Regions from separate parts of the Homo sapiens genome. Here region 2 is linked to region 1. A link means that fine-mapping ties the variant in region 1 to the expression of a gene that starts in the linked region. Tissue or cell type: monocytes after LPS. Region 1 holds a variant in brackets; the other region holds the start of a gene. All regions are shown on one strand. Distances are between the middles of the regions.

Region 1 (5,150 bases):
CCTCACAAAAATTCACTGTGGTGAATTTGCCATGGTTTGAGCTTTGTAAATTCAAATTTAATTTCGAGAGTAAACTCCAATTATGCTCAGTTACTAATTAAAAATGAAGACTGTCCTTTCACAGGAGTCAGGTTGCTCATATTATTCAGTCTTTCAGTCAGACAAATATTTTTTGAGCACCTTTAATGTGTCTGGCAATGTTCCAGATGCTTGGGGTGCATCAGAAAACAAAACAAAACTCCTTGTGGAGCTCACGTTCTTGTGGGGCCAGCACATTCTAGCTAGACTCGCACACGGTTTTCCTGCAGGCACTTCTGCATGCGAAGCCAGGTTGTAATGGAAACTTTGCCTAGTGAACCTGGAAGTCAGAACAGGGGCGGTTAATTGTCTACATTTAATAATTGGAATTAACCTGTCTCAGGATACATTTTAGGGACGAGAGAAATTCAGGTGGCAGCCACATCCCTCTTCACACAAGACAGAGCTTATATAAGCACTCCTATTTTTCAGTTCTTTGAGCTTCTTTTTCTATAATCTAGACTAGTGATTCCCAGGATGGAAGGTTACAGGCATCTACTGTCCCACTTGAAATCAGTGCATGTGATTACATACTAACAGATGTAACTTCAGAGAAAGTATCATCTCTGTGATACCATATCTATGCTCTCCATGATGTGGTACCTGAAAAGGGCTAAGAGCTCCTGGGCTGAACCTTATCTTTGTGTTTACCCAACCTAAAATGGCTTATATCACTTACTAAATGTCTTTCTCATAACTATTACTACTGTGCTCTTGCCCAGCCTTCAAAAGCTGTGTGCAATTCACCATGCCAGGAGTGGGCATTCATAAGCTCTTCAAGCATGTGTTTACTGCCAGTCTCTTGGTTTACTTTCCTAGGTGATTGATTTACCTCCCTTGAGTGTATATACATTTAACTAATTTAAATCTCACCCTATTTATTTCTGTCACCCAGGCTGGAATACGGTGGCTCAATCATAGCTCACTGCAGCCTTCAACTCCTGGCCTCAGGTGATCCTCTCATCTTGGCCTCCCAAAGTGCAAAGATTACAGGCATGAGCCGTTGCGCCTGTAATTTTTCTTCATTGACTTTTCCTTACTAAAAACAAGAGCCTCAAGCAGTGTTTGAAGATACTGATATTTTATTTCATTACCTTTCCAATGAGGCAGTTCACTAGCCAGAATTCTCAGACTTAATACCAAACTGCTAGGTCCATAGTGTTGAAGAAAATTTAAAATCTGCATTATAAATTTAGTGATAGTGAAGTAGAATAAAAATTGTACCAGAAAAGGACAAAGCTAGTATCTGGGTTTTCCAAATTAAAGTTCCCAGTATTTTTCTTACTGGCTTCTTAAATTTAAATCCTGAGAGAGTTTACCAATGTAGTTAACATTTCACTGGAGAAAAGATCTAGGTTTTAAATTTGTTTTGTGGTTTGTTTTTTTGTTGTTGTTGTTGTTTTTTAGGTGGGGTCTTGCTCTGTCGCCCAGGCGGAGTGCAGTGGTGCAATCTCGGCTCACTGCAACCTCTGCCTCCCGGGTTCAAACAATTCTCCTGCCTTAGCCTCCCAAGTAGCTGGGATTACAGGTGCCTGCCACCACGCCTGGCTAGTTTTTTTGTATTTTTAGTAGAGATGGGGTTTCACCGTGTTGGCCAGGCTGGTCTTGAACTCCTGACCTCAGGTGATCCACCCTCCTCGGCGTCCCAAAGTGCTGGGATTACAGGCATGAGCCACCACACCAGGCCAAGATCTAGTATTGACTAGTCAGAAAATAAAAATATTTTATAGATAATGCTACCAGGGAGAAAAACTTTTGTGACATGTATGACAACAGTTGATTTTCCATCACTCCCATGTGCTAGCTATTTGAGGCAAGTGAAACTCACTTCATCTGTAAAATGGAAATACTAATGCTGTTTCTATAGGATTAATTTGAGGATTAACTGTAAAGCAAGTAAACCTGTTCCTGGTACTGATAAGCATTTAGTGTTGTTATAATTATTATTTTATATAAAAAATAAATTTTAAGAATTATACAGATGAGGCTGGGAGCAGTTGCTCATGCCTGTGATCCTCGCACTTTGAGAGGCTGAGGTGGGTGGATCACCTGAGGTCAAGAGTTCAAGACCAGCTGGGCACGATGGCTCACACCTGTAATCCCAGCACTTTGGGAGGCCGAGGCGGGCGGATCACGAGGTCAGGAGATCGAGACCATCCTGTGAATGGTGAAGCCCCGTCTCTACTAAAAATACAAAAAATTAGCCAGGCATGGTGGCGGGCGCCTGTAGTCCCAGCTACTCGGGAGGCTGACACAGGAGAACGGCTTGAACCCGGGAGGTGAAACTTGCAGTGAGCCAAGATTGTGCCACTGCACTCCAGCCTGGGCGACAGAGCGAGACTCTGTCTCAAAAAAAAAAGAGTTCAAGACCAGCCTGGCCAACATGGTGAAACCTTGTGTACTGAAAATACAAAACTTAGCCGGGTGTGGTGGCAGGTGCCTGTAATCCCAGCTACTCAGGAGGCTGAGGCAGGAGAATCTCTGGAACCCGGGAGGCGGAGGTTGCAGTGAGTCGAGATTGTGCCATTGCACTCCAGCCTGAGCAACAGAGCAAAAAACTCTGTCTTAAAAAAAAAATTATCCGGGTGCTGTGGTTCACACCTGTAGTCCCAGCTATTCTGGAGTGTGACACGGGGGATCACATGGGCCGAGGAGTTCAAGGCTGTACTGAACCATTATTACGCCTGTGACTAGCCACTGCATTCCAGCCTGGGCAACATAGTGAGACCTCATCTCT[T/TAAAA]AAAAAAAAAAAAAAAAAAAAAAAAGGAGGGGTGGGGAGCAGCTATCAGGTAGAAAAAATAGGTAAGAGACATGAATAGGCTACTCACAAAAGAAATACAAATGCTCGGCAAACGAAGGAAAAGAAATTCAGACATATTACTTATAAAATGCAATTAAAGCAATAATGGGATTAATGTCTACTGTCTTGAATTTAAAAAAATTTTTTTAAGTCTGAGTATGGTGGCTCACTCCTGTAATCCCAACACTTTGGGAAGCCAAGGCAGGAGAATTGTTTGAGGTTAGGAGTTCAATACCTCTGGACAATGTAGCGAGACCCATCTCTACAAACGAATTAAAAATTAGCTAGGCGTGGTAACCCGCACCTGTACTCCCAGATCCTTGGGAGGCTGAGGTGGGAGGATTGTTTGAGCCTAGGATTTTGAGGCTGCAGTGAATTATGATTGCACCATTGCACTCCAGCCTGGGCAACAAAGTGAGACTATATCTCATTTTAAAAAAAAAAAAAGATTTTTTTTTTAATAAATTAACAATAGGATATATTTTTCGGTACCAGATTGGCAAAGTTTGGAAAAATGGATAGCACATAGTACTAGCCAGGACATGGGAAGAACCAGACATTCTAGTATGATATTAATGAGTGTAAATGGATACGACAGTTTTATAGGCCAGCCAATTAAAATTGAAAAGACTCGTGCCTTTTGTACAGATGCATAAATGAATACAGCAATATTCATTAAAGCACCTTTATAATAGTGAAAAATTATAATGGCCTATCCAGCTGTAATAAAAGACTGGTTACATTCTAATAGCTACAATTTCCTGAATACTGATTCTGGGTCAGATACCGTACTTGTTTCTGCAAATCTTTTTGCATTCCTTAATCTTTACTCCAAGCCTGTGAGAGGCACAGAGTACTCCATTAAGTGGCTGCAAAACAGGGCTCAGAAAAATCCAGGCACTTGCCTAAAGTCTATGTTACTAGTAAGTGGCAGAGCCAGAAATTGAATTGACACCAACGACTATGCTGTCCTGTCCCCCATGGAGTGGCTGAGTGGGCTAAGTCAACTCTTACTAACTTGGAAGGGTATCTGAGATATATTTCGTGGAAAAGCAAGTTGCAAAAAGTATAATATCTGTTTGAAAAAAAAAAAAACTCAGCACATTTATTTATATATACATATTTTTTATATGTTTTATATATATATTTATATATGTATCTTCTTAAAAGTCTAGAGAGGTAAACAATAAATTGTAATTATTTCTTATCTCTAAAGGGATGGAATTACTGGATTCACTATTACATTATTTTTTCACTGAGCATGTATTTTAATAAAACTTTTTAAAAATCACATATACTTTCTAAGAAAAAGCAAAGTTTTTCACTTACTTCATTTTGTCTCTTAGGTAATTCCAGTGAATTCTGCAGGCTCTCCTGTTGGGGATGTGCCATTCATCCGATCAGGATTGCTGGGGTTTGTAGGGCCGGTAAGTGATGCTTTCATGTTGATTTTGTTACATTTGATCCAAATATTTGGACTTTAATTCACAGAACAGAACAAATTCTGATTAGTCCAAGAGTGTTACAGAACCACTTCACTTATATTTAAAGCAGTTCTTGTAAGGATGTCATAAAATGAGTTAGTGTTTATCATTTCCACTACCCAAGTTCATTTGACTCCTTCAAACTAAGACATTTTTTATTTTCTTTTTTTCCCCGCTGAGATCAGAAGACATGATGAGACTTTTTTTATTTTAAGAACTCTTTTCACTTATTCTCACTATCTCGCTCTGATTTGATTAACATGTTGCAATAAGTTAGAAGAGTGCTGGAAAAAGTTATCTTCAGTAGCAAAGACAAACTATAATACATAGTATACAGAGCATTTTCATGTAAATGATTGGCACTATGTGATGTGTAATAGTGATCCTTTGAGTGAAAACAGTTTGGGCCGGGTGTGGTGGCTCATGCCTGTAATCCCAGCACTTTGGGAGGCCGAGGTGGGCGGATCACCTGAGGTCAGGAGTTCGAGACCAGCCTGGCCAACATGGCAAATTCTGTGTCTACTAAAAATACAAAAATTAGCTGGGTGTGGTAGCATGTACCTGTAATTCCAGCTACTTGGGAGGCTGAGGCAGGAGAATCGCTTAAACCCAGGAGGTGGAGATCACGCCACTATGCTCCAGCCTGGGCAACAGAGCGAGACTTCATTTCAAAAAACAAACAAAAAAAAAACAAAAAAGTTTGTTATTCAGAACACAGTATTTATAGGTACAAGATTAGAGACAATCAGGACATTAAAAGCCTGTTCTCAAAGAGCTCACAGTGAACTTGA
Region 2 (5,150 bases), 200 kb before region 1:
GGCAGAGGTTGTAGTAAGCTGAAATTGCGCCACTGCACTCTAGCCTGGGTGACAGAGCGAGACTCTGTCTAAAAAAAAAAAAAACGGTGACACAGTATAAACATAGTATATTTTTGTTTGTTAATTTTTAAAAGTTTTTCTCCAAAAGCATGAGCCACCACACCTGGCCTCGGAGAAAAATTTAATGTTAAACTTTTAAAATAGTCACAGAAAGAATAGCAGTATAATCTGTACCTTCCAAACCAGAAGAACAAAGAAGTACTATCTAACACTTTACTAATTCAACAATAGGAGAAAAAGGGGGGGAAGAAAGCAAAGACAGAGATTGATAAACAGAAAACATTTAACAAGAATGAAGAAATAAGTCCTAATATATCAGTAATTATATTAAATGAACTTAAATGGATTTAATTAATTTGTTACAACCAGAGTCACAGACAAAAGTTGAAAATAAAAGACTAAAAAAAGTCAGCAAGTAGTAATTAAAAAGGCTGGTACAACAATAATATCTAGACAAAAAGATTAAGGTAAAGAATAAACAATTAGAAATAAAGAGAATATAAGGAATAATCTAGCAAAAAGGTAGAATAATTTGGTGGAAGAATGCAGTAAAGGCTGGATGAGGTGGCTTATGCCTGTAATCCCAGCACTTTGAGAGGCTGAGGTAGGAGGATCTCTCAAGTTTGTTCTAAGCTTCTATAATTTTAAATAAATGTTTTACTTTAGAATGGTTTTAAATTTACTGAAAAGTTGCAAAGATAGTACAGATAATTCCTGTGTATGCTTCATCCAGTTTTTCCTTTTTTTTTTTTTTTTTTTTTGAGACGGAGTTTCGCTCTTGTTGCCCAGGCTGGAATGCAGTGGTGCAATCTGGGCTTACCGCAACCTCCACTTCCCGGGTTCAAGCGATTCTCCTGTCTCAGCCTCCCGAGTAGCTGGGATTACAGGCACATGCCACCATGCCCAGCTAATTTTTGTATTTTTAGTAGACGCGGGGTTTCACCATACTGGTCAGGCTGATCTCCAACTCCTGACCTCAGGTGATCTGCCTGCCTCGGCCTCCCAAAGTGCTGGGATTACAGATGTGAGCGACCACGCCCGGCCTTGACTTTTTTTTTTTTTTTTGAAACAGTTTCACTGCGTTGCCCAGGCTGGAGCGCAGCCGCCATGTTCTCAGCTCACTGTAACCTTGGCCTCCCGGGTTCAAGCGACGTTCCTACCTCAGCTCCCCCAGGTAGCTGGGATTACAGGCATGTGCCACTACTCCCGGCTAATTTTTGTGTTTTTAGTAGAGACGGGGTTTCGCCATGTTGGCCAGGCTGGTCTCGAACTCTTGACCTCAGGTGATCCGCCCACCTTGGCCTCCCAAAGTGCTGGGATCATAGGTGTGAGCCACTGCACCTAGCCTTGGACCCTCTTCATATTAAATTAAAATTAATGTTTTTGGAACACCTATTAGGCCACAGAGTGAGGAGGATGAGTTAAAGTAAGTTCCCTCCTTGTAAGTAGTTAGAAGTATAGAAAGAAAGAAGTGGACCTGCTCTCTATTGTCTTTTTCTTTTCTTTAGACGGAGTGTTTGCTCTCTTGCCCGGGCTGGAGTGCAATGACGCGATCTCAGCTTACTGTAACCTCTGCCTCCTGGGTTCAAGTGATTCTCCTGCCTCAGCCTCTTGAGTAGCTAGGAGTACAGGCATCCGCCACCACGCCCGGCTAATTTTTGTATTTTTATTGGAGACGGGGTTTCACCATGTTGGCCAGGCTGGCCTAGTACTCTTTTTTTTTTTTTTTTGAGTCGGAGTCTCGCGCTCACGCTCAGGCTGGAGTGCAGTGGCGTGATCTTGGCTCACTGCAAGCTCCGCCTCCCGGGTTCACGCCATTCTCCTGCCTCAGCCTCCCGAGTAGCTGGGACTACAGGCGCCCGCCACCACGCCCGGCTAATTTTTTGTACTTTTAGTAGAGACGGGGTTTCACCGTGTCAGCCAGGATGGTCTCGATCTCCTGACTTCGTGATCCACCCGTCTCGGCCTCCCAAAGTGCTGGGATTACAGGCGTGAGCCACCGCGCCCGGTCGGCTAGCCTGGTACTCTTAACCTCAGGTGATCCACCAGCCTCAGCCTCCCAAAGTGCTAGGATTACAGGCGAGAGCCACCGCGCCTGTCTTTTTAAAAGCTAAAACTGAAACGGAAACAGAGCTCCTGGCAGATAGGACCAGGAGCCACAGCGAAGGAGGTGGCCTGTGATTAGGTTTTTATAAATGGGCAGGTATTAATCAGGGAAAATGGAGTAAAGGACACGATAGACATACATTGCTAAGTCTAGTATTGGAAAAAGTAAGGCCTGGGACCCCTAAAAACTTGCTCGAGAGTGAAAGGTAAATGCTATGTGTCCACACTACTGTGGTAAAGCCGACAGTCCATACCATGAGCCCATTTCGCGCAGGGAAATTCGAGTGGTGGGCTTGGGCCCGTCGTTCTGGTAGCTTCCCAGTAGAGGGCGCCGTAAGCATATGCGTCTTCAGCCTGACTGGGCTGGAGAGGCGGTGCGTCCTCCTGGCCGGGGGGCGGGGGCCGTCGCGCTCACGTGACCTTTGCTCATGGCGGCGGCGGCGGCGGCGGCGGTGCTGGTGGTGCTCGGCGGCCGGAGCCGGATCCTGTAGCCGGGTGTGGGCCCGTGTCTGTCCGTCCCTCCTTCGGCCCCCTCTCTTGTCTTCCGGAGTGTGGCTGGCGGAGCTGGGATGGCGGAACGAGGCCTGGAGCCGTCGCCGGCCGCGGTGGCGGCGCTGCCGCCTGAAGTGCGGGCGCAGCTGGCGGAGCTGGAGCTGGAGCTCTCGGAGGGTAGGAGCCGGGCCGGGGAGAGGGCGCCCGGGGCCCTGCGGATCGCGGCGACTTGGGAGACAGGTCCCCGCCGCGCGCTCTGGCGGCCGTGCGGCGAGGGGGACGAGGGTGTAGAGAACCTGGCCTGGCGCTCCACGACCGTTTTCCCTCCTCTCCCACCCCATTAAGTGGTTTCCTGTGGCTTTCATTGTTTTCCCATGGAGGGGACTAAGTAAGGGCTTGTGGAAAGGTCCTCCCGGGCCCACACTGCTTCTGCGCTTCCTGCCCCCCAAAACCCGAGACAAAGCTGCGCCCTCCCGCTTCTGCCCAGGCGTCTGGCCCAGGTGGGGTGAGGGGTAGGGCTGCGAGGAGGGTGGCTGACAGCTTTCTCCTTTCCTCTCCCCTTTTCGTGGAGGGCTCCACGCCTTGTTCCAGCCCCCCCTTCCCCCTTTCAAAAAGAGACACATGGGAAATCCGCAGCATCATTTCTTCTCTTTCCTTTAACAATGCGCGATGCCTCCCCAGTGACAGGAGTGAGACACAAGCGGGTGAGCCATTTAGGGTCCTAGGAAGATAAGAAGCAATGGCATTAACCCAGAGAGACACACGGTGCTGCTTTTAGACCACCTTTGTCATAAGAAGTTTTTTTTTTTCCTGGTGCCTGTTATTCGGGCCGAATTTTCCGCATCTGGTCACCTTTTGGAGTCTTTGATGAAGGAAGGAGAGGAGGCTACCGTTTACTTGCAAATCCTGGCTGGCATTCTTTCTTTTGACAATGGATTGGGACAGGGAGGGTTCGATTTATTTTCAGAATTAAAAAAAAAAAATGGGATAAATCAAGCCACTGTTATTAGAGAACTCCTTGTACAACAATGAGAGAAACACAGTGCTCCGTTGTGGGCATGTGATCAGGCTTCTGGGGCAGTTGTGATCAGTTCTGTGTAAAGTTCCTGTTTTTATCACTGGCTGCCCCTGAGACAAAAGCAGCATTTTCTCCAAGCTTGATACCAGTACTTTGATTGTGTCTCCAGAGTTGCATATTCTTACTGAGTTCCTTGTGGAAGGCCCTCTTCACTAGCATTTTTCAAGTGGATCAAAAACTCTTGATTGGAAAAGAAGAATGTGACCAACTCCCAGGAGCTTATTAAACATTACTTATTGTTTACTTATTAAGGCATTATGGTTCCCTCCCCTCTGAGAATCCTTTACAATGAAAAACCAAAAATAGAGTTGAATGTTATAAATCCTGTTGGGCACTGAAGGAAATAATTATTTTTAATAACCCTTTTAATAACCCAATGTGTAGGAAAGTGCTGTTTTTACCTGTACTTAACTATCAACATGTTATTTTTCAATTAATCCAATTTTCAAGTTATTCTTCGGCCAGTCCCGGGAATCACTGGTATTAGATTAGTTTGTTTCTGTGAAGTGTTTAAGAAGATAGGAATCCTCTGGGTTTGTCTGCCCAGTTATACCTTAAGTTCCCCCCGCTTCGAAAATCGAGGAGCTTTTTGCATTACCATCAATTCTGTCTCTCAAGATAACTCATTCTTCTCCTAGACTAAAGCATTGACATTAAATCTGTGTTGACTTGCATTAAAATCTGACTTTTAAAACTGCTATTTGAAAGTAACAAATCATCTAGCTTTGATTAGAGAGAGGTTTGCCTGGATGCTTGCGTCAGAGGGAGATTAAAAATAGGAGTTGATTGCTTTCACACGGAGAGGGAAATCCTGGAAGCTCCTTATTCTGGGTATATCTGCTTCCAGCTGATTGTTGTTTACATCTCTGGGTGTTTCTAGACATCTCTAGAATGTCTAGAAACATTCTGAGGAACTATTTCTAGGACCCACACTGATTAGCTCACCTCTCTCTCCTTCAGAAAGGTGTGAAACTTCTACAAATTGTGAATGCCAAGGCTTAAACATTTTAAGGACAAGTGCATGGTTTGCTTTCCAATGAAGGATTATTTTGGTTGGCATCTGACTTGGTTTGAATTTGTTTCTTATAGATATACTACACTTCTTGTATTTCATTTGTTTTAGCAATGGATGACTGGAAAAAATACAATTGAAAAACTTGGGCCTGCAGTGTCAGCATATTGGTCATCTTTCTTGCTTAAAGTACAGGGGATGGTTGGCTGGAGAAGTGGATAGACATTAGGAATTCAAGTGAAGTTAAAATAATCCAAAAGTCCCCATATCTGTGTAGTATGGTGTTATTTGTGATGCCTGTAGCATATTTGGAGCTAAGGTTTGTTCGTTTTGCATTTTCTCTACAGTTACTCTGCTCTAACATAAGTACTTTGTCTTTTTTTGTTTTAGATGCTTTTCTTT

Evidence for each region. PIP is the estimated chance that this variant, and not a neighbour inherited with it, causes the effect.
Region 2: DIP2B starts here. The variant in region 1 is fine-mapped to the expression of DIP2B in monocytes after LPS (Fairfax 2014, PIP 0.91).

Annotation. Positions count from the first base shown.
Region 1 is chr12:50,699,919-50,705,068 of GRCh38, forward strand. It overlaps DIP2B (disco interacting protein 2 homolog B), which reads left to right. Exons shown (of 38, transcript NM_173602.3): 20 at 4,222-4,302. Among named protein-coding and RNA genes, the nearest start is that of ATF1, 62 kb to the right of the region's middle. The variant T/TAAAA (reference allele first, on the strand shown) is at 2,816.
Region 2 is chr12:50,502,406-50,507,555 of GRCh38, forward strand. DIP2B (disco interacting protein 2 homolog B) reads left to right here and starts at 2,580. Exons shown (of 38, transcript NM_173602.3): 1 at 2,580-2,835. The coding sequence starts at 2,736. RefSeq lists a silencer at 2,883-2,992.